Homo sapiens: one gene and its partners. The protein of the gene in region 2 purifies or fractionates together with the protein of the main gene of each other region. This does not show direct contact. Each region holds a gene or a part of one and is shown on either strand. Other genes may lie near its edges.

Region 1 (3,651 bases), on a different chromosome or scaffold from region 2:
TGGTTGCACAAATCTGTGAGTATACTAAAAAACACTGAATTGTCCACTTTCAATGGGTGGATTGTATGGGTTGTCAATTATATCTCAATACATATGTTAAAAAATTTAAATGCCCAAATATTTTTGAACACTGCTTCTCTTTATGGTTTTACATCAAGGAGTTTGCAGTTTTGCAAATGGAAATAGATATGTAAAGCTTAATGAATTCATCCAATTACTCAAGTAATTTTCAATATATTAAGAAGGTAGCTAGAAAACTTTAGAACATTGAATGCCCATCTGGTCAACACTCTAAAATAAATCCACTAAATCACAGCTCAATTTTCCTCTATAAACAGTTATTTTTTTCTGATACCAAAGATATTCATTTTATTTAAGTATTATAGTTAGAATAACCCCCACTCCAATATCTTTAATAAAATGAAAAGTCATTTTACAAACCGATTTGAGTTGGCTATTTTCATCTTTCAACTTCACAACATGCTTGATTTTTTGTTTCAAATTCTGATGACCCAATAATTTAGCATATGAATCTCTTATTTTATTTAGCTGTTCCTGAGCTGCACCATGTTCATTCAACAATGCCTGTTTTTCTACTTCAAAAGCATCTAGTTGTAGCTGAAAAAGATTTTTTAAATAAAGTTAAGACTTAAAACAGTTTGATCTTACTAGTTTCATATAAACCATAAACACTAAAGAAAATTAAAAACACAAATGAAAACAAGGTATGTTCACATATTCTCAGGGCTCTCCATAGATTCTCTATGAGAATCTTTTAAACTTTGTATTTTTCATTTTAAAGATCATTAAAACAGAGGAAAAGAAACAAGGTAAAAAAGCCAGCTGGCCAGTTTTATCTGTATCAGTTAGATTACCACATTATAACCAATACTGTACTTCTAAGTTCCAAAATCAGCATTTATTCTTTTTTCTTTTAAAAGATCAGTATATTGAGAAACAATGAGTATTTGCAATAAGTCATACCACAAATTAAAATAGGTTAATTATCAAAAGCTCATACCAGGCAAGCCCTCTGAGCCAAACTTTTAAGTTCCACATTACAAAGTTTTTTTTTAAACCACAAAGGGTCCATTGAAAAAATTATGTCAATTAAATTTGTCAATTATACTTCAATAATGTGGGAAAAAATTATGCATAATTTAATAAAATGTATAAACCTTTAATAGTGAGCTAAATTGGCACTGTAAGTGCAGAGCAAAATGATCTTGCAGAAAACCCGAGTCACTGTCCTCACTATAATAGGGAACAAAGTGAGTCCCTAAAATAAACACAAGTAAGTTTACTCCTAACTGACAAACCTGAAAAGGTTTTGTTTTATTATATAGTTCTTCATAGAGGAGACGCCACTTGTTAATTTCTTCAGTTAATTCTGCTGTTGTATTTTCTTTTTCAGCTTTTCTGCATGGAAGAATTAAATTGAGAAAAACATAGTTATTTAAAAAATCACATCGTAACTGAGTTAACAAGGCACTCAGGTTCTAATCATAGATTACCTTCCTTCTTCATCTTCCAGCTGTTTTCTAAAGTCTTCCTCCTGTTGCTTGAGTTGGTTCTGCAAATCAGTTATTTTTTGAAGAAAAGAAACTGTGATTTCTTTAATTTCTGTTTCCTTTAGTGCTGACTTGGTCTGCAGATCTAGAAGCATCCTTTGGTTTGAGAGAGAAGAGGTCACTAAACATTTTATAGCCACTTTCATTAATTTTTCCTTTTTTTTTCTTTAAACCTCAAGGAACTCTTCAAGAAGTGTCATTTTTTAACTGAGTAAATTCTTAATTTGCAGTATAAGATGGCCAAAAGCAAGCCAAGGGACAGTTACTAGCTGGCTTTCAACATTAAATTGTCTTAATGGTTCTAAGGCCATTATTTGCTCTATATACCTTACATATTCTTGATTTGAGCTCTCAGTTGCCAAAATCTGATGCTGAACATCCTCTGCATTTTTCCCAGCCTTGGCCGCTTTTTCCTGTAATGATGAGTTCTCCAGCTTAAGATCTTCTATCTCACTGGCTGTTAACGCTTTATAGCTTATTAAAAAGAAAAAAAAGTCAAAGTAGTTTTCTAACTATTGCGTATGACAATCATAACTGATTAGTTTACACTTTATATACTTCTAAGTAAAACTAAAAAGTTTTTAATGTATTCATGCATTTAACACAGGTAAGAATTCAGTGTTCTGAGGCAAGTACTAATGAGTTTACATGGCATCTGCTGTGTATTCAAAGAAAAAAAAATCAAGTGCCTACTAGGTGCAGGAAGTATGCATACAGAGATGGAAAAGAAATCAACTACCAAGCATGAAAATTACTCACAATTTAAAAAATAAGAAGTGAGACTAGAGCCTAATGAGTAAGAAAGGCTGGAGCAGAAGCTGGTGGCATGAGGGTCATCACCGCAGGGCACAGTGGGCTTACCTGGCGGACAGACGGGAACCATTAAAGGTGTCCAAGTAGGCTGGGCGTGGTGGCTCATGCCTGTAATCCCAGCACTCTGGGAGGCCGAGACGGGTGGATCACCTGAGGTCAGGAGTTCGAGACCAGCATGACCAACATGGTGAAACCCCATCACTACTAAAAACACAAAAAATTAGCCAAGCGTGGTGGTGGACACCTGTAATCTCAGCTACTCGGGAGGCTGAGGCAGGAGAATCACTTGAACCTGGGAGGGGGAGGTTGCAGTGACCTGAGATAGTGCCATTGCACTCCAGCCTGGGCAACAAGAGCGAAACTCCGACTCAAAATAAACAAATAAATAAAATAAAAAGGTGTTTAATTAAATGTGTAGCTCACTCTAGAGCTATGAGGAAGATGGATTAGGGCAGGGGAAAAGAATGGAAAATTGAAGGATCAACTCCAAAACAATTATTTATCAGCCCAGGTGAGTGATAAAGGAGGCTTAGACTAAGGAGCTGGCAATGGAAAGACACAAGATCTCTTTTGGAAGCAGAGTAGGAAAATTCAAGAGATAGACTGAATATTGGGGGTAAGGAAGAGAGAATGATGAAGGATGACTCTAAGATTTACAGAATGAAAAGCTGGGAAGATGATGTCACTGATTACAATAAAAACAATGAGAGACTAGGGGTAGAAAGCAATGGAAGGATCAAGAGTTGGTTTGGACAGGTTAATATTAAAAGACAGTGTGATATCTACTTGAAGATGTCAAGTGGGTAACTGGATATGTGAATATGGAGCTGTAAAGAAAGGTCTGGTTTGATGAAATAAATTTTAATGCCACGAGTATATGGATAGTGACTAAAATCACAGAATAGATAAAAACCCCCTGAAGCACTATTCTTCAAACTAACGAGAAGGGAAATTCCTTTACAGGATTGATATTAGCAATAAATATATATATATAAAATTTACATATATTTATATGATTTATATGTTCTGATACAATAAAAATTATAAATAAAACATATACACTTATAAATTATTTATCTATGTGTCTGTCATAATGTATCACATGTGGGAACAGATCACTGGGGAAACAAGGTACAATTTAATGAATTAAATTAAACTAGGCAGTTGGTTGTCCATAGGGAAAACAAAAAATGAATTTGATCCCTATATTGCTACACACACAGAAATCAGTTCTAGGTGGAAAAATGGAAAGTGAAATTTTAAGACT
Region 2 (4,168 bases):
ATTTGGAAAATTTCTACTAACATTTTTGACTTGGTAAATTTCTACTAACATTTTTTAACCATGCTACATTTACAAACACTGAAAAGACAGAAAAAAAAAGAATATTTTGCCTCAAAAAGCTCTTAAGAGACTATGTAATAAAAGAAAAAATATGAATCAGAAAAGGAAAGAAATAGAAACACGTGATACTGGAAGGAGGAGCTAAATTTCTCTTGGAGAAACTGTTAGTCATCATCTCAATACTCTATTGCATCTGTCAGTGTGTTGAAAAATGCTCAGAGTTAGATTGAGCAGGAAAAACAAATGCCAGGAAAAAAGAGCCAAGAGTTAAATCAGGATACAAGTAAGAATGAAAGAGAGGCTGAGTTCACAAAGAAAAGAACAATAAAGGAAAAAGAATGGGAATGTTGGTGGCTGCCAAGTATTTGAGAACTGAATAGGGTATGGAGAAAAAAATTCTTGATTTAAGAATAATGAAAGAAGGTTAGGTGTCAGATGTTTGTGTCTGGAAGTTCCTGTTAGAAAAAGCTGTTACAGTTTTAAAATAAGTTATTTAGTCAAGATAATGAAGATTAAGTCAGAGCACCATAAAAAATATTAACTGTTATCCTTTGAAGCAGAATGATAATACTAATTCAAAAACATGGAAGTGAAAAAATTATCCTGTCCTATACAAGAAAAAATTTTAAACAGAGATAAAAAACCATAATTATTCACACTAAATTAGCAACAAAGAGGAAACATGTATGATAGGCTAAATAAAAAACTCAGACGCAAAATTATGAACAAATTTCACTAAGTAATATATGTACAATAAATACTGTTAGAAAAATGAACAACAGTTTAAAGAATTATGATAGCATATAGGATAACCAGCAATTTTTGTGTCTTTTTACAAATGTATTGTTATGAGTTGTCATTATCATTTTAAATGGGAAATAAGATCAGTTATGAATTGAATACAGTAAAATTTAAGAGCCAAAACCTTAGACGGCCTTCAAAAGAAAATCTAAATGATGAGAAAACTATAAAAATCTAACAAACTTTTTATTGAATAAAGGTGTTAGAAACAATGATTTATTTATAGCAATTCATTCATTCGAAAAGTTTACTAAGTATACAAAAATTAATATACTTTATAAAGAAAAGTTACCCCAAGTTCCTTTCTTCCCCCAACGTTTAAAGGTAATCAGAGCATATTGTTTTCCTCAGCTTTAAAAATCTGTAACAAAGGATCCAAGAAGACAAGAAAGAAACAAAAAAATACTTCAAATTTTGCATATAAAATTTTACATCTTTCCCAGGTGACCTCGAAACTCAAATGTCAGAACCAAAGGCAGAAGCAGGTATCTGGGCAGTGCCAACTGTCAGGGAGGATGCAAAGAGAAGTCGTCACCAGAGAAACCAGGGTCCGAAATGCAACCAGCAACAGGGAAATGTGAAGCCTTAAACAGGAAATAAAAGCCTGGGTTTCTTTAGACTATGGTTGGGATAAGGAAGGGGAGTACAGGGGTGATAAACTTTAGCAATATTCCCAGAAAGTGTTGGCGCCTTTGACAGAAGCATGGGAAAGAAGGCATCCGGGTAGAGGCTCTTCACTATTTGCTGGTGGAGGGATCATAGACCCCTCTGAGATCTTATGGACCCTCTCCCCAGAGCACGTACCGGGCAGTATTTACTCCATTTCAGGAGTTCCACAGCCTTGGGGTAGGAGCCCCTGCCTAGGAGATAATAAGACTGACGCTGCCTGATATTCTCACGCCCGCATTCATTCATTCGAACAGGGGATCCCTTTTGTCACGCAAGCAGCTCTACCCTCAGCATCCTACCCGTAACAGGAGCTCCATAAACACTTGTTGACTGACTGCTTGTATCGAGTGCTGAGCTGGAAACAGAGGTGATGAACAGGTATGATATTAAAATAGCAACTAGAGTGTACTGAGTGGACACTGTGCTCTAAAGGTTTTATGTGTATTTTCACATTTAATATGTATTTTCACATTTCTCCCTTTGCGGCGGCCCTTTTCAATACCCATCTTACAGATGAAGCTTAAACTGATTAGCAATTTGCCCTCCAATGACCCGACGACTAAGTGGCAGAGCCCCAATTCTCACCCGGGGAATACTGATTCCAGAGCTACGCTCCTGGGAGCTCACGATGCAGTAGAAGCATCAGAAACGGTAAAGGGGGTGGGAGGGGAGGAGTAAGTGTGACCCAGACTACAAGTAAGAGGAGCTAAGATGCCTTGGCAAATCCCTGCCAGTCCTGAGAGGCGGGAAGCTGAAAGGCTGGCCCGAGTCTTGCAGGAGTTCGCAATCCAGGCGGGGAGTTAGGAAGTGACTCTTTTTTAAGGGGGAGCTGGACAGCTCTCGTCGGCCTTCACCAAGCGCCCACTTCGTGTCCGGCCTCAGGCCACACAACCAGAAGGGCCCGGGCCTAGAAGCCCGAGGGCTCGGGGTAACGAGGCGACGCCGGGCGGCGGGGAGGAGGCCGGGGACCGCCGGGGTTCCTGCAGGCCTGGGACGGCGGGCCTGCTCGAGGACTGACCTTCCCGGAGGCGCCGTCCCCCAGCACGACGATTTTCAGTTGCCGGTCCTGGCTCTCCTCCTCAGAGTCCGACATGGTGTCCCGGGAACCAGGCCCGCCCCTCGAGGTGGGGGGGGAAGGGAAGGATGAAGGCTCCGGGGGCGGGGGAGAGGAGGAAGGGAGGTAGTTGCGGCAGGACCCCCGCCCCGGTGTCTCCGCGCCGGCAGGAGGTATTCGAGGAGAATCACTCGGCAAGCGCCATCTTGCCCACCTCCCCGCCCTCTGCGCGCGGCCCCGCCCCCTACGCGCACGTCGGGCGCGCGCCCCCGCCTCAGAGCCAACCCGCGCCGACCGGCGGCCCCGCCTGACGAGCCGAACCACTCGCGGCCCTGGACTGGTGTGGGGGACATTCCGGCGGGAGAGGCGAGGCGCTGCGTTTCCCTTCAGGAGACAGTTGGCTAGAAGAAGAAAAGAAGTGTTCGTTCAAATTAAGGAGAGAAAACGGGAGCAGAGCAGCTTTCAGGCGTTCCATCAAATTCCCTTTTCTCCTTCCCTCTTGAGAAAGTCTCTGAAGGGAATGGTTCAGCCTGACGGGGTGGAGCAGTGACGCCCGGGCTACGCGCCAGGGTTGCCTGGCAGCCAGGAGTTCGAGGACCGGCGGCGGGGCGGGGCCTGTCTCCGGGCACCCGGGACGCCCGTAGCCTGGCGGAGAGCGCCAGAGAGGGCCCCTGAAAAACCGGACCAGGGAAGAGGGTACCTCGGGGCGGATGAGGGGACAGCTGCTAAGGGCCGAGGCTGCTGGGAAGCCTCAGTAGCGGCCGTGAATACAGTGGAGCTCCGGCGCTGCTTATTTCGGCCTAACTCTTGGTTTCCTCATCTGAACAACCCCAGGCTCCCATGGTTCGTTCATCAGACGCTACTGATCGCCAACCTCCTGGCACCCCATCTTTACCCTAAGGCAGCAGTTCTCATAAAGTGTGGTCTAGGGACCTCTGGAAATCCCGATGACCTCAGAACAATTTTCATAATAATACGGACACCTTGTCTGTCTTTCTCACGTTCCTTCTCTCACTAGTATACCGTTTCCTGGAGGATACGCTTTGTGTACGACGTCATCACTGGCAGCTAAGGGAGCTTGCGTTTGTTGTTTTTAAACATTTCTCAGTTTTCATTTCAATGCAGTAGTGATAGGTGTAACCCACATAAACATAAGCTCTTTGGAGGTCACAGTAATTCTTTAACATTATAGAGAGGCCCTGAGTCCAAAAAATTTAAGAACTGCTGCCCTGGATAATCTCAGTCCAGGAGCGTTAGGTAAACGGCATAAATGAAATTTACAATTTAGTGAGGTAAATTCAAAAATAATAATGCTGTCCTGCTATGGTTGTTTCATTGTTAATCACTTAAAATTTATTGTTACCTTTACTACTATTAGGAATTATGAAGTATAATTATCCCCATTTTGCAGATGAAGTATCTTAAGTTAACAAAATGCTTAGCCCAGAGGCAGTAGTCTTGGAGACCATATGGGCATTAGAACAGGAAAGCAGAACAGTGTAAAGAAATGCCCAGACCTAGAGGCATCACTGGAGTTTAATCTCATGTTTACTAGATATGTGTCCTCGAGCCTCAGTTAGTTCA
Region 3 (3,651 bases), on a different chromosome or scaffold from region 2:
AGGAGTTTTAATAATTATGCTGAACAGTTAATGAATGCAGGATGAAACAAAACTAGCATAGCCAAAAGTTCCCATCCAAAATGATTTTCTTTAGGAAAAGTTAGCCAAATCTTAAAAACAAGCAAAACAAAACAAAACAAAAAACCTGTGAAGTTTAAAACTGTTTAAGGCCAGGCATGGTGGCTCATGCCTATAATCCCAGCACTTTGGGAGGCCAAGGTGGGCAGATCACTTGAGCCCAGGAGTTCAAGACCAGTGTGGGTAACATAGAAAAATCCCGTCTCTACAAAAAAAAAAAAATATATATTAGCCGGGTGTGGTGGTGTGTGCCTCTAGTCTCAGCTACTCAGGAGGCTGAAGTGGGAGGATGACTTGAGCCCAGGAGGTGGAGGTTGCAGTGAGCCGAGATCGTGCCACTGCACTCCCGCCTGGGTGACAGAGCAAGACTCTCAAAAAAGAAAAAAGAAAACAAACAAAAAAAAATTTTAAATATTCAGAAACTAAAAAATGAACTAGCAAATAAATCAAATAAATCAGAATCCTTCCAGAGCTAAAAAAACATTCCTTCCAGAATTCGAATTCCTTTAATTCACTTTGGTTTATGTATAACAAAATCAAAGGCTCCAGAAATCTTCAAATAATACAGCAAAGCACCGCAACAGTATGCTCCATCTTTAGACATATCCAGACCAAAATGTGCACACGCAAAATGCCAAATACACACGCTTACCCTTTCAAGTAGGTCTTAGTTCTACCCCCAAACTCAAAAATTATTAAAGATTATACAAGTAATTCCTTTCGCTTACCTGTCAGCCATATTTCTCCACTTAAAAAGCAAATTACTTGCAGAATCACCGATGGGCAGGTGCAATCTCTCCTTAAAATATTTCACAATGCTTTGTTCCTCTAAAAGCACAGGAACTCGGTATGTGGAAGAAACATCATGGATACATATGACCTAAGTGGCGATGAGAAATCACCATACTTAGATGGATCTATTCAAATATGCCACCACAAGAATGAAACAAAATTCAGCAGAGACTGGCAGTTTATTTACACTGATATAACACACACACACGCACACACAAAAACCCAGCAACCAAAGCTAGCATCAGAATTTGCACAAGGTTAGCTTCATTTAATTAGAAAACTAATCCCAGCACTATGGGAGGCCGAGGCGGGCAGATCACCTGATGTCAGGAGTTCGAGACCAGCCTGACCAACATGGTGAAACCCCACCTGTATTAAAAATGCAAAAATTAGCTGGGCATGGTGACATGTGCCTATAATCCCAGCAACTCAAGAGGCTGACGCAGGAGAATCGCTGGAACCCAGGAGGCGGAGGTTGCAGTGAGTCGAGATCGCACCATTGCATACCAGCCTGGGTGACAGAGCAAGACTGTATCTCAAAAAAAAAAAAGAAGTGTACACAAAACGATTGGACAGGTCAGGTGTGGTGGCTCACGCCTGTAATTCCAGCACTTTTGGAGGCTGAGGCAGGCGGATCATCTGAGGTCAGGAGTTCAAGACCAGCCTGGCCAACATGGTGAAACCCCATCTCTACTAAAAATACAAAAATTAGCCAGGCATGGTGACACACACCTATAATCCCAGCTACTCAGGAGGCTGAGGCAGGAGAATCGCTTGAACCCAGGAGGCAGAGGTTGCACTGAGCCAAGAGTGCACCACTGCATTCCAGCCTGGGTGACAATAGTGAAACTCTGTCTCAAAAAAAAAAAAAGATTGGACGCAAACAAAATGGCATGACAACATATCAACATACAGATGCAGAAGTGTCCCTTCAATCTGCCATCACATTTTTCAAAGTAGTTCAGACTTCGGCAATGACTCTGAGGCATCAGGCAGGGGGCTCTCCATCAGACTATTTTCCAAGATGCCAAAATTCAATTTGATCATTTTTAGACTTCAGAGAACCCAGAGTTATAATCTGAAGAAAAGATTTCTGCCAAACCTCACCCTTTTCCTGAGCACCATTTATATCACTCTCTTTAAACTATAGGTAACTCCAATCCCTTATAACCAAGCCTTATTGGAATCAAGAGACAGAGATGAGAGAAGGAAAGAAAAAAGAAAAGCGAATTATCAGAATACCAAGGTGGAAAGCCCTACAGAGCAGAGAACCTAAGCCCAAATCACAGTACAGTTTCTGTACCAATGAAGTCAACTGAGCCCACTGATGGAGTCAGAAGAGCTAGTGCGAATGTCAACGTGCTCGTGTGTTTGGGGTGACTTAAGCTGCCACAGGTAGAGAGGAGAAATGAGTGAAAGCAGTAAGTGTTCCAGAAGGAAACACAAGATAAAGAGATGATAAGTAGGCTTCATGTGGTTCTCTCTCTAGAGGTTTGACTGTGAGTTAAACACCCACCCTGGTACTGGGCACGATGGCTCACGCCTGTAATCCCAGCACTATGGGAGGCTGAGGCGGGCGGATCATCTGAGGTCAGGAGTTCGAGACCAGCCTGGCCAACATGGCAAAACCCCATCTCTACTAAAAATACAAAAAAATTAGCCAGGCGTGGTGGCGCATGCCTATAATCTCAGCTGCTCAGGAGGCTAAAATAAGAGAATTGCTTGAACCCAGGAGGCAGAGGTTGCGGTGAGCTGAGATCATGCCACTGCACTCCAGCCTGGGTGACAGAGTGACACTCTGTCTCAAGAAAAGAAAGCCCACCCTGGTTTTGTGACATAAGTTGAGTGATCATGCAAAGAAACATGCATCCTATCTCACTTAAGGGCTAGGGAATCATGGTTGGATCAGGGTTCCCCAGTGCTTGCATAAATGCCGTGAAAAGTAATATGATCATTGAAGAGGTACAAAACACTGGCATCAGCAGAAGTGCCTGCCAGACAATAAAATCTAAAGAGCAGCACCAACCTGTTCAGGGTTCACGTGACAAAACATAGAAATCTTCTCCTTCACGGCCATCTCAATGGGCGTTGAACTTCGGCAGACAATCTGTCAAAGCCAGTTATGCTTCAGCAAACAGGATTCACTTTCAGCAGGATGCCACATTCATTTCTTTTTACAAGAAACTTGGCCAAGTATGTACTTGTTCACTTTGGACATTCCACTGGACTATTAGAAATTGGTCTGAGCACTAATATAAGTATAATCAAATTCAGCATAAGTGTATCAGTAAGAACTCGAAACATCGAGACGTCTCTGGTGAACAGAGTCCAGGCTCACAAGTGTTGCTTCATTAACTACAAGAAAAGAGCTAGATCGGGGTTAACAAACTTTTTCTCAAAAGGGCCAGATGGGAAATATTTTAGGTTTGCAGGTGACACAGTCACTGTCCTGATCCTCAATTGAGGTGCAGTGTGAAAGCAGCTACAGACAATATGTAAATGAATGGGTGTGACTGCATGCCAATAAAACTTTACTTACAAAAACAGGCAAGCAAGTTGTGGGCTGTTATTTGTCAACCTCTGACAGAGACTACTGGTGATGACTGGATCACCTGCTATAAGGACACATCACTGTTTAGACTAAAAATAAGAGCAGCGGACTGGGCGTGGTGCAATCCCAGCACTTTAGGAGGCCAAGGCAGGAGGATTGGTTGAACCCAGGAGTTCGAGACCAGCCTCAGTAACATAGCAAAACCCTGTCTCTACAAACACACACACACA

What was found.
Region 1: the proteins of RAB28 (region 2) and HMMR purify together in Homo sapiens (affinity purification with mass spectrometry, with the first as the bait; one large-scale study listed by BioGRID). This does not show direct contact.
Region 3: the proteins of RAB28 (region 2) and CTPS2 purify together in Homo sapiens (affinity purification with mass spectrometry; one large-scale study listed by BioGRID and IntAct). This does not show direct contact.

Annotation. Positions count from the first base shown.
Region 1 is NC_000005.10:163,481,036-163,484,686, reverse strand, and holds part of HMMR (hyaluronan mediated motility receptor), read right to left. Parts: intron 2,084-3,651; exon of another isoform or gene 2,046-2,083; coding exon 1,899-2,045; exon of another isoform or gene 1,668-1,898; coding exon 1,515-1,667; exon of another isoform or gene 1,420-1,514; coding exon 1,320-1,419; intron 619-1,319; coding exon 442-618; intron 1-441. UniProt on the Homo sapiens protein: Receptor for hyaluronic acid (HA). Involved in cell motility. When hyaluronan binds to HMMR, the phosphorylation of a number of proteins, including PTK2/FAK1 occurs.
Region 2 is NC_000004.12:13,481,528-13,485,695, forward strand, and holds the start of RAB28 (ras-related protein Rab-28), read right to left. Parts: upstream 2,814-4,168; 5' UTR 2,624-2,813; coding exon 2,549-2,623; intron 1-2,548.
Region 3 is NC_000023.11:16,688,644-16,692,294, forward strand, and holds part of CTPS2 (CTP synthase 2), read right to left. Parts: intron 2,978-3,651; coding exon 2,897-2,977; intron 959-2,896; coding exon 807-958; intron 1-806. UniProt on the Homo sapiens protein: Catalyzes the ATP-dependent amination of UTP to CTP with either L-glutamine or ammonia as the source of nitrogen. Constitutes the rate-limiting enzyme in the synthesis of cytosine nucleotides.